Homo sapiens: one gene and its partners. The protein of the gene in region 3 purifies or fractionates together with the protein of the main gene of each other region. This does not show direct contact. Each region holds a gene or a part of one and is shown on either strand. Other genes may lie near its edges.

Region 1 (3,654 bases), on a different chromosome or scaffold from region 3:
GAAAACCATATCATCATCTAAATGTTACAATAGCATCTCATAAAATTCAGAAGCCATTCCTATTTTTTGTAAAGCAGAAACAGAATAAAATAATAATCTTTCTCTAAATCCAACAGCTGCCATCATCCCTAACTGTAAAAATATTAATACCAGAGTCATTTCAAGACAACGACACGTCTCTTGTTTAACCAAGTCTTGGAACTTCAGGCCAATGTAATAAAGACCTAAAACAGGGTTAAGGGCTGGGCACGGTGGCTCATGCCTGTCCAACACTTTGGGAGGCTGAGGCAGGCGGATCACGAGGTCAGGAGATCGAGACCATCCTGGCTAATACGGTGAAACCCCGTCTTTAAAAAAGAAAGAAAAAGAAAAAAAAAAAAGGTTAAATATTGTAACCATAGAAAAGTGACTGAAGTTACTATTATTCTCAGATAAAACAATGAACCTGGAAAACAAAATAAAGACGTTTACTGAAGTCCAGTAAGATAATAAAAATACCAATGAACAGAAAAATCTAGTTACTACTTCTTCTTTTTTTTTTTTTACTTAGAGATGGAGTCTCGTTCTGTTGCCCAGGCTGGAGTGCAGTGGCTTGATCTCAGGTCATTGCAACCTCCGCCTCCCGGGCTCAGACAATTCTCCTGCCTCAGCCTCCGGAGTAGCTGGAACTACAGGTGTGCACCACCACACCCAGCTAATTTTTTGTGTTTTCAGTAGACACAAGGTTTCACCACGTTGGTTAGGCTGTTTCCAACTGCTGACATCAGGTGATCCACCCACCTAGGCCTCCCAAAGTGCTGGGATTACAGGCGTAAGCCACTGCACCCGGCCAAATATTTTTATACCTGTATTTTATTTCTGTAGCAAAACTATTTTAAAACTCTTTTATCCCCACCAGGCATGAAAAAATTCCAGAAAGATTAAGATTGAAACACAATGGGCTGGGCACGGTGGCTCACGCCTGTAATCCCAACACTTCGGGAAGCCAAGGCAGGCAGATCACCTGAGGTCAGGAGTTTGAGACCAGCCTGGCCAACATAGCAAAACCCCGTCTCTACAAAAAAAAAAAAAAAAAAAAAATCAGTTGGGTGCGATGGTATGGTGCCTGTAATCCCAGCTACTCGGGAGGCTGAGGCAGGGGAATCACTTGAACCCGGGAGGCGGAAGTTGCAGTGAGCTGAGATCCAACACTGCACTCCAGCCTGAGTGACAGAGTGAGACTCTGTCACAAAAAAAAAAAAAAGATTGAAACACAATAATTATTAAAAGTACCAGAAGAAAACACATAAGAATGTTTTTTGTAAAGGTGGAATGAGGAAGATCTTAAACAGAAGGCAATAGATTAATATCTATTACATGTGAAGAGCTTCTACAACTCAATAAGGAAATATACATTACAAGTCTTTTTGGAATGCAATTCAAAAAAAAAAGAAAAAAGAAATTTAAATGCACACTTACAAGTCGTTTTAATGGAAATACTTATCTACATATGCATGTGCACAAAGACATACGTATAAGTTCATTAAGGCTCTAGTTTTAGTTGCTCAAAGTTAGAAATAACATAAATGATCACAAATAATTAAAGTACTACCATACAGCATAATATCTAATGACTTAAAAAGTAGAGGTGCCACTATATGTCATGATATGGAAAACAATACTTAATGATCAGATTTTTTATTTTAAAATCAACATAAAAAGTATCCGACACACAAAAGGTACTACTTATTTCTAACTCAGTAAGTAAAACTATTAACAGCGGGTAGGTACTTCTAAGGAATGGGACTAAAAAGAGAAAGTAATTTTCACTTTTTAAGAATTTTATAAGACAGGGTCTTGCTCTGTCACCCAGGCTGGAATGCAATGGTGCAATCATAGCTCACTATACCTCCAACTCTTGAGCTCAGGTGATCCTCCTGCCTCAGTCTCCCAAAGAATTTTCACTCTTTAAATATTTAATTGACTTGTTTGAACCTTTTATAATAAATATGTACTGCTTTTAGAATTTAAATTTAAAATAAGGAACAAAACCACTGTTCCAGTTTGTTACAATGGTTCTGCCAGCTGAGACTAAGGTAATTTTGTCTTAAAAGTTTTTACCACTTTCCAAATTTCTTATTTAATATTTTTTTCTACTTTTATTTTTGTCTGATTTAAGAGATGGGGTCCCCCTGTATTGTCCTGGCTGACCTCAAATTCCTGGACTCAAAGGATCCTCAGCCTCCCAAGTAGCTAGGACTACAGGCACCACCAGCCACTGCCCACTTTTCAACTTTTATACAGGAAATATGCATATTTTTAAATCTGAGAAATTTGTGTTCAAAAACCCTATGTTTTATTTCAGTGGTGAAACTATTACATATTTTTTCTCCTGAAAAATTACATTTTATTCATCCAAAAGTAATTTTTATTTTTAGTTACGGTCTCAGAAACTTCGTTCTTTTAGAAGGCAGTTTTTTGTTTGTTTGTTTGTTTGTTTTTGAGACGGAGTCTCACTCTGTCACCCAGGCTGAAGTGCAGTGGCGCAATCTCAGCTCACTGCAGCCTCTGCCTCCTGGGTTCAAGCAGTTCTCCTGCCTCAGCCTCCTGAGTAGCTGGGATTACAGGCGCCCGCCACCACGCCCAGCTAATATTTTTATTTTTAGTAGAGAATACTAAATTCTCTACTAAAGAATAGTAGAGAATATAGGTTTCACCATGTTGGCCAGGCTGGTCTTGAACTCCTGACCTCAAGTGATCGGCCCACCTCAGCCTCCTAATGTGTTGTGATTACAGGTGTGAGCCACCGCACCCGGCCTAGAAGGCAGTTTTAATTCTAAGTTTAGGAGTATCGACTCTACAGCATGTAAGAACAGACTATTAACTAACGTTTATTAAGACCTATAATTACAGAATCCTTTACCTGCATTCCCTCATTTGATCTAAATATCCCTGTGAAATTGGTATTATTATTATTATCCCCATCTTACAGGTGAGAAAAGCAAGTCTTGAAAAGAATGTATATCTTGCCCAGGGTAAAGTAGAACAGCAAGAATTCAAACGCAGGACTCTAGCTCCTAACCACATGGGATACATGGAGTAAGTACTAAAGAAACTCAGAGATAGTAGGCTGGAACACTGAAATCCTGAATGAATGTTCAGACTGACTACCCTTAACCAGGCAGGTGACCCTAGAAGGGAAGAAGTGATGAAACTCAACTCTGATCACAGAAGAAAACAACCAGTATTTTATTTTTTGGGGGCAATGAGGGATTTTTTTCCTTTCCTATTCTGCTCTGTTAAGGCACAAAAAGGATACTAGGAAGAGCTTGGACACACAATTTGCAATTAACACCCTCCCTCTGATTAGTCTGGAAACTCAACTCTTATACCAAACTGATGGAAACCTTTACGACTTAAAGTCTTGAAGTTGACCCAGTTTCTTTTTCTTTTTCTTTTTTAATGAGACGGAGTCTCGCTCTGTAGCCCAGGCGGGAGTGCAGTGGCGCGATCTCGACTCACTGCAAGCTCCGCCTCCCGGGTTCATCACGCCATTCTCCGGCCTCAGCCTCCCGAGTAGCTGGGACTACAGGCGCCTGCCACCAAGCCCGGCTAATTTTTTGTTGTATTTTTAGTAGAGACGGGGTTTCACTGTGTTAGCCAGGATGGTCTTGA
Region 2 (3,654 bases), on a different chromosome or scaffold from region 3:
CTGTAATCCCAGCACTTTGGGAGGCCAAAGCAGGTGATCACCTGAGGTCGGGAGTTCGAGACCAGCCTTACCAATATGGAGAAACCCATCTCTACTAAAAATACAAAATTAGCCGGGCGTGGTGGTGCATGCCTGTAATTCTAGCTACTCAGGAGGCTGAGGCAGGAGAATCGCTTGAACCCAGGAGGCAAAGGTTGCGGTGAGCCAAGATCATGCCATTGCACTCCAGCCTGGGCAACAAGAGCAAAACTCCATCTCAAAAACAAAAACAAAAACAAACAAACAAACAAAAAACATGGAGGTAGTATGATGAATAACAGAGTACTGCAGGAACAAACAGTAGGAGGCAAAGCACATTAGGGATCAGGGACTTGGCTTCTATTCTGATTCAGCCCCTTATCAGGTGTGTGGTCTTGAGCAAAGAATGTTACTGCTGAGTTCGGTTTGGAAGTTTTTATAAATAGCATTTATTTGATGCCTACAATTTCTAAATAAATTGGTTTTTGTTATGAGAAAATACAGTCATGCATTAACTAATGATGGGGATACCTTCTGAGAAATGCATCATTAGGTGATTTCATTGTGTAAACATCATAGAGTGTTTGTCACACAAACCTAGAAGGTATAGCCTACTACATACCTAGGCTATACGGTATAGCCTACTGCTCCCAGGCTGCAAACCTGTACAGTATATTACTGTGCTGAATATTGTAGGGAAGAGTAACACAATGTTATGTATTTGTGTATCTAAACATAGAAAAGGTACAGTGAAAATACAGCATAAAAGATAAACCATCATACACCTGTATAGGGCACGTACCGTTAATGGAACTTGCAGGAGTAGATGTTGCTCTGGCTAAGTCAGTGATGAGTGGTGAGTGAAAGTAAAGGCCTAGGACATTACTGTACACTACTGTAGACTTTATAAACACTGGATACTTAGGCTACACTAAATGTATTTAATAATAAATTAAACTTAGCATACTGTAACTTTTTACTTTATAAACTTTTTGACTCTTTTGTAATAACACAGTGTAAAACAAAAAACACATTGTATGGCTATACAAAAATATTTTCTTTTTTTATACTCTTATCCTATAAGCATTTTTCTGTTTTTAACTTTAGAAAAAAAAAAAACCTTTCTGTTAAAACCAAGACACAAACACACACATTGGGCTACACAGGGTCAGGATAAATATTGCCATCTTCCACCTCTACATCTTGTCCCACTGGAAGGTCATCAGGGCAACACCACACATGGAGCTGTCATCTCCTATAATAACGGTGCTTTATTCTGGAATACATCTTAAAGGACCTGCCTGAGTCTGTTTTATAGTTAACTTTTTTAAAAAAATAAGTAAGAGTATACTCTAAAATAATGATTGAAAGTATAATGTAGTAAATACATCAACCAGTCACACAGTCATTTATTATCACTATCAAGTATTATGTACATCATTGTATGTGCTAGGCTTTTATATGACTGACAGCACAGTAGGTTTGTTTATACCAGTATCCCCACAAACACATACGTAATGCATTATGCTGCAATGTTACAATAACATTACTAGGTGATAGAAACTTTTCAGCTCCATTATAATCTTTTGTTGTTGTTATTTTGGGTTTTGTTTGAGACAGAGTCTCACTCTGTTGTGCAGGCTGGAGTGCAGTGGCACTATCATAGCTCATTGCAGCCTTGAACTCCTGGGTTCAAGCAATCTTTCTGCCTCAAACTCCTGAGTAGCTATGACTATAGGCACGTATCACCACACCCAGCTAATTTTTTATGTTTTGTAGAGACGGGACTTTGCTATGTTGCTCAGGCTGATCTCAAGCTCCTGGCCTCAGGTGATCCTCCCGCCTTGGCCTCTCAAAGTGCTGGGATTACAAAGATAAGCCACTGCACTCAGCTGTTCATTACAATCTTATGAGACCACCATCGTATATGAAATTGGTCATTTACCAAAACATCGTTATTCAGTGCATGGCTGTAGTTTTCAATTTGGGAGCTAAAATGAGAATCAGTCAAAGTATGGGGCTCTGGAAGAGGGGGCTGCAGCTTTGAGGCTTTCCTTCTCTGCAATCTAGGAGGCTCTGTCCCCTGCCCTCTCTACCTTCCAGCTCTAATCCCTCTCATGCTGAGGCCATAGGTGTGAGTAATTCAGTCCTGTTCAATCCAATTCGATTTTATCTAAATCTGCTTGGCTGTGATGTGGTGGTCCAAAGATTAATCCATCTTTTAATAGACAATGACACAAAAGAATGGGGTCAGCCTCCCAGCCCCTCTGCCTCACACAGGTGTCCCTCCTATGAGCTCCAACAGCACCTTATACATCCTTCAGCCTCACTCCTTATCACATCTGTTTATGTATCTGAGTTTACTTCCCCACTGTGAGCTCTCAAATGGCAGGGATCTTGTCATGTTCATCTCTTTGTCCCCAGTGCCTAGCACAAAGGGAGTCCTCTGTAAATGTTTATAGAGTGAGAATGAATGTTTGGAGAGAATTAAAATACAAGGCAGAAGTAAAATAGGCTGTAATAGTTGTGTAAGAAACAGGCATGGGTCAGAGAAAGAGGAGAGTAGAAGGGCCTTACAGAAGGGCCTTACAGAAGAAGTAGCAGTCAATTTGAGTCTTGACCAACAAGGGATGAATAGGAATTCACCAGATACAGAAAATAAGCTTGTGATGAGGGGTAGAAGTTGTGAGGAGGGTTGGTAAAAGAGTATTCCGGTCTGAGAAACCAGCTTGAGCAGGGAGAGAGTCACAAGTGCAAATGATGCATTCAAGAAATTGAGTCATCCAGTGGCTTGCTTAAATGCCTGCTGTACAGGGAGGGGGTGGGAGAGAAAGAAGTCCCTTCTGGGAGGATCTTGATGATATTCTGAGGGGTTGCAGACAGTAGAGAGTAAGTGAAGTATTTTTTTTTTTTTTTTTTTTGCTTTTGTTTTTAGAGAATAAAGACATGATCTGATGTGATTCAAAAGGTAGTGGGTTGTCAACAGTGTAGAATACTCTAGCGGGGTCAAATAGAGTAGGCTAAGAAAGGACCTTTGAATTTAGCAGTTAAAGATTAGTGTACTTGGGAAGAAGTATGCACTGATAGGGCACAGAATATTGTATTGTAATGGAATGAAGAGTAAATGAGAAGACACAAATATCCTCTTAAGAAGTTTGTCTGCAGAAAGAAGGAAAGATTTGGAACGAACCTTGAGAAGAGACAGGCTTTCTTAAGGAAGGGCAGAGTTGGGCCAATTTAACCAAACCTCAAGGGGTTAGAAGGCTAAAGGATTCAAGTTCACCATTTACTGAGCAGTTCATCGGTGGGGAATGTAGGCATCTGGCTGGGTAGTGAGGGTTGGGGATAAGACGGAAGGAGGGGGATTTGACTGAATGAAGGCTGACCCCCTACTGCCACCTCTCCCTTTTCTTACCCAGAATTGGAGCTGGCCATTAGAATCACTCTTTACGCAGTGATCTTCCTGATGAGCGTTGGAGGAAATATGCTCATCATCGTGGTCCTGGGACTGAGCCGCCGCCTGAGGACTGTCACCAATGCCTTCCTCCTCTCACTGGCAGTCAGCGACCTCCTGCTGGCTGTGGCTTGCATGCCCTTCACCCTCCTGCCCAATCTCATGGGCACATTCATCTTTGG
Region 3 (3,654 bases):
TCACGGATGGAATTGAAACCTGGATCAGAATTTTATGATCTGTTGCTTTTAGTCACATTGGTATAAAATAATTTAATGAAATAAAGTCATTGGGAGGGGATTTGTTTCATAATTTTTTGGTCAGTGCTATAATACATGCATGTATCTGAGTATCTGAATGGCCTGGGTTTTTGTTAGTGGGTTGTTTTTTTTTTGTTTTGTTTTTTTTTTGAGACAGAGTCTCACTCTCTTGTCCAGGCTGGAGTGCAGTGGCGTGATCTTGGCTCACTTCAACCTCTGCCTCCCAGGTGGGTTCAAGCGATTCTCCTGCCTCAGCCTCCCAAGTAGCTGGGACTAAAGGCACGTGCCACCACACCCGGCTAATTTTTTATTTTTAGTAGAGATGGGGTTTTACCATGTTGGCCCAGCTGGTCTCAAAACTCCTGACGTCAGGTGATCTGCCCACCTCGGCCTCCCAAAGTGCTGGGATTACAGCTGTGAGCCACTGCGCCTGGCCAGGGTTTTTTTTTTTTAATTGGTAATAATAACTTCTTTTTTTCTTTTTTTAATGGGCAAATGGCATAAACCTTTAAGGGCAAGCATATTTTCCAGTCATGATAACAAAAGTGAAAGATATAATTCTAAATATTTGGCTTTGAATATTTGGTTTATTTATTGATGAAAAACAGAACGTAGACCATAGAGATATATACAGTATATAGAGGAGAGGATGATTAGTAATGGACTTGTGTTGAGAAACGTGCACTTTATAAAGTTTTCTAATTATGAAGCTATCCAGCGTCTTTTATACCACAAGCTGCACTAAGGTAGTTAGCTATGGCTAGAACATAGAAGGGAAGACATAGAAGGGCCTCGGTTTTGCATTTGACAGAGAGGCTCCAGCTTCTCTTTTTTTTTTTTTTGAATGTAGTTGATAGGGATGTTGAGATATTTATAGAAAACTTCTACAAGAGAAGTGTTTAAGGCTGAGTGCTGTAGCTTACACCTGTAATCCCAGCACTTTGGGATGCTGAGGCAGGTGGATTACGAGGTCAGCAGTTTGAGACCAGCCTGGCCATCATGGTGAAAGTCCGTCTCTACTAAAATACAAAAATTAGCCAGGCGTGGTGGTGGGCGCCTGTAATCCCAGCTACTCAGGAGGCTGAGGCAGGAGAATCGCTTGAACCTGGGAGGCCAAGGTTGCGGTGAGCTGAGACCACGCCATTGCACTCCAGCCTGGGCGACAGCGAGATTCTGTCTCAAAAAAAAATAAAAAGTGTTTAAACATAGCATACTATTTTTTGTTTTCTTGTTTTTTTTCGTTTGTTTGGTTTTTTGTTTGAGATGGAGTTTCCCTGTTGTTGCCCAGGCTGGAGTGCAGTGGCGTGATCTTGGCTCACTGCAACCTCCGCCTCCTGGGTTCAAGCGATTCTCCTGCTTCAGCCTCCCGAATATGGGATTACAGGCATGCACCACTACGCCTGGCTATTTTTGTATTTTTAGTAGAGACGAGGTTCCTCCGTGTTGGTCAGGGTGGTTCTGAACTCCCGACCTCAGGTGATCCGCCCACCTCAGCCTCTCAAAGTGCTGGGATTACAGGCAGGAGCCAGTGTGCCTGGCCTGTTTTCTTTTTCTCTTAGAGGCAGGGTTTCCCTATGTCATCCAGACTGGAGTACAGTGGCACAATCATAGCTCACTGTAGCTTCAGATTCTTGGGCTCAAGTGATCCTTTTGCTTCAGCCTCCAGAGAAGCTAGGACTGTAGGCATGCACCACACCTAGCTAATTTTTCTATTTTTTTTTTTTTTAGTGACAGGGTCTTGCTTTGCTACCCAGGCTGGTCTCGAACTCCTGACCTGAAACAGTCCTCCTACCTCAGCCTTCCAAAATGCTGGGATTACAGCTGTGAGCCACTGTGCCTAGCCAATATCTCATACTCTGTGTACTCACTTTTCATAAAAGTGGCCACATTTGAATAGTTTTCTTTAAATCTAAAATACAAGCTCTAATACTTTACATTTCAGAATTTTTGTACTTAGGAAAAGGCTTTCTAGGTCGTCACATTCAGTGTATTTTGTTGATGATAAGACATAACGCACACTGCCCATTTTATTTTCCTCTAGGTTTTATGGGAATTAGAAACCTTACGTCTCATAAATCACTTTGAAAAATCCATGAAGGCAGAAATTGGAGATGATGATGAGTTATATATAGTAGACAATAATGGAGAGATGCCACTGTTTGACATCACTGGGCAAGACTTTGAAAATAAGCTTCGAGTTCCTCTTCTTGAAATACTGAAATATCCTTACTTGCTTCTACATGAACGTGTTAGTGAGTATCTTGATGGTTCCTCAAGTTATATCAGTTTTATTATTTTAGTACCATAAGAATTTAGGCTTATCTATATTGCAAATTTGTTTGCTAAACATATAATTAGGATATATAATTAGGACTTCATTTTTTTTCCAACGTTTTTTATTTTTTGAGTTCAAACACAAAATACCTATTTTTGGGGCACAGTTCAAACTTATCTTGTTCAGAGGGTAACTGAAGATTGTTTTTATTTTTTTTTAGAGACAGGGTCTTGCTGTGTCTCCTAGGCCGAAGTGCAGTGGCGCAGTCATGGCCCACTGCAGCCTCTACCTCCTGGGCTCAAGTAATACTCCTGCCTGAGCCTTGTGGGTAGCTGGGAGTACAGGCGTGTGCCATTGCGTCCAGCTAATTTTATGTTGTGTTTATTGTAGAGATGAAGTTTCACTGTTGCCCAGGCTGGTGTTGAACTCCTGGGCTCAAGCAGTCCTCCCACCTCAGCTTCCCAAATTGCTGGGATTATAGGCACGAGCCACTATGCCTGGCTCTCAACATTTTATTGTGAAAATTTTTTAACATAGAAAAGTAAATTATACAGTGAACATGATATACCCATCACATAGTTTATACGGTTGTTAACATTTTGCTATATTTGCTTTATTACGTATCTGTTCACCTCTTTGTTCAATTATTAATAATTTTCATTCTCGCCGGGCATGGTGGCTCACGCCTGTAATCCCATCATTTTGGGAGGCTGAGGCAGGCAGAGCACCTGAGGTCAGGAGTTCAAGACCAGCCTTGCTAACATAGTGAAACCCTGTCTCTACTAAAAATACAAAAATTAGCCAGGTGTGGTGGCAGGCACCTGTAATCCCAGCTACTCAGGAGGCTGAGGCAGGAGAATCACTTGAACCTGGAAGGCGGAGGTTGCAGTGAACCAAGATTGTGCCACTGCACTCCAGCCTGGGTGACAGACAGAGACTCTGTCTTAAAAAATAGTAATAATAATAATTTTCATTCTTGTAGTATGTCTGTGGCAGGGTTTCTCAGCCTTGCATTGGTGACATTTTGGATAATCCTTTGCTGTGGGCTGTGCCGTCCATTGTAGGATGTGTAGCAGCATCCCTGGCCTTTGTCTACTAAATGCCGCTAGCACTCCCTATCTCCTTTGTGACAACCAAAAATGTCTCCAGACATTGCTGAATACCCCTTTTGGGGGGTGAGGTATAAAATCACCCCTGGTTGGGAAATGCTATTCTGTAGTAATTTTCATTAACCACTATGGCATGGCTTATTATAGCTGTCTAGATTTTGGTTGTTGATATTTGCATTTCATAATACGAATCTCTTGAAAGTAAAGGCA

What was found.
Region 1: the proteins of SETX (region 3) and PAK2 purify together in Homo sapiens (affinity purification with mass spectrometry; one large-scale study listed by BioGRID and IntAct). This does not show direct contact.
Region 2: the proteins of SETX (region 3) and CCKBR purify together in Homo sapiens (co-immunoprecipitation; one large-scale study listed by IntAct). This does not show direct contact.

What each region holds. Positions count from the first base shown.
Region 1 is NC_000003.12:196,742,709-196,746,362, reverse strand, and holds part of PAK2 (serine/threonine-protein kinase PAK 2), read right to left. Parts: intron 1-3,654. UniProt on the Homo sapiens protein: Serine/threonine protein kinase that plays a role in a variety of different signaling pathways including cytoskeleton regulation, cell motility, cell cycle progression, apoptosis or proliferation.
Region 2 is NC_000011.10:6,266,232-6,269,885, forward strand, and holds part of CCKBR (gastrin/cholecystokinin type B receptor), read left to right. Parts: intron 1-3,437; coding exon 3,438-3,654. UniProt on the Homo sapiens protein: Receptor for gastrin and cholecystokinin. The CCK-B receptors occur throughout the central nervous system where they modulate anxiety, analgesia, arousal, and neuroleptic activity.
Region 3 is NC_000009.12:132,344,919-132,348,572, reverse strand, and holds part of SETX (probable helicase senataxin), read left to right. Parts: intron 1-2,101; coding exon 2,102-2,312; intron 2,313-3,654. UniProt on the Homo sapiens protein: Probable RNA/DNA helicase involved in diverse aspects of RNA metabolism and genomic integrity.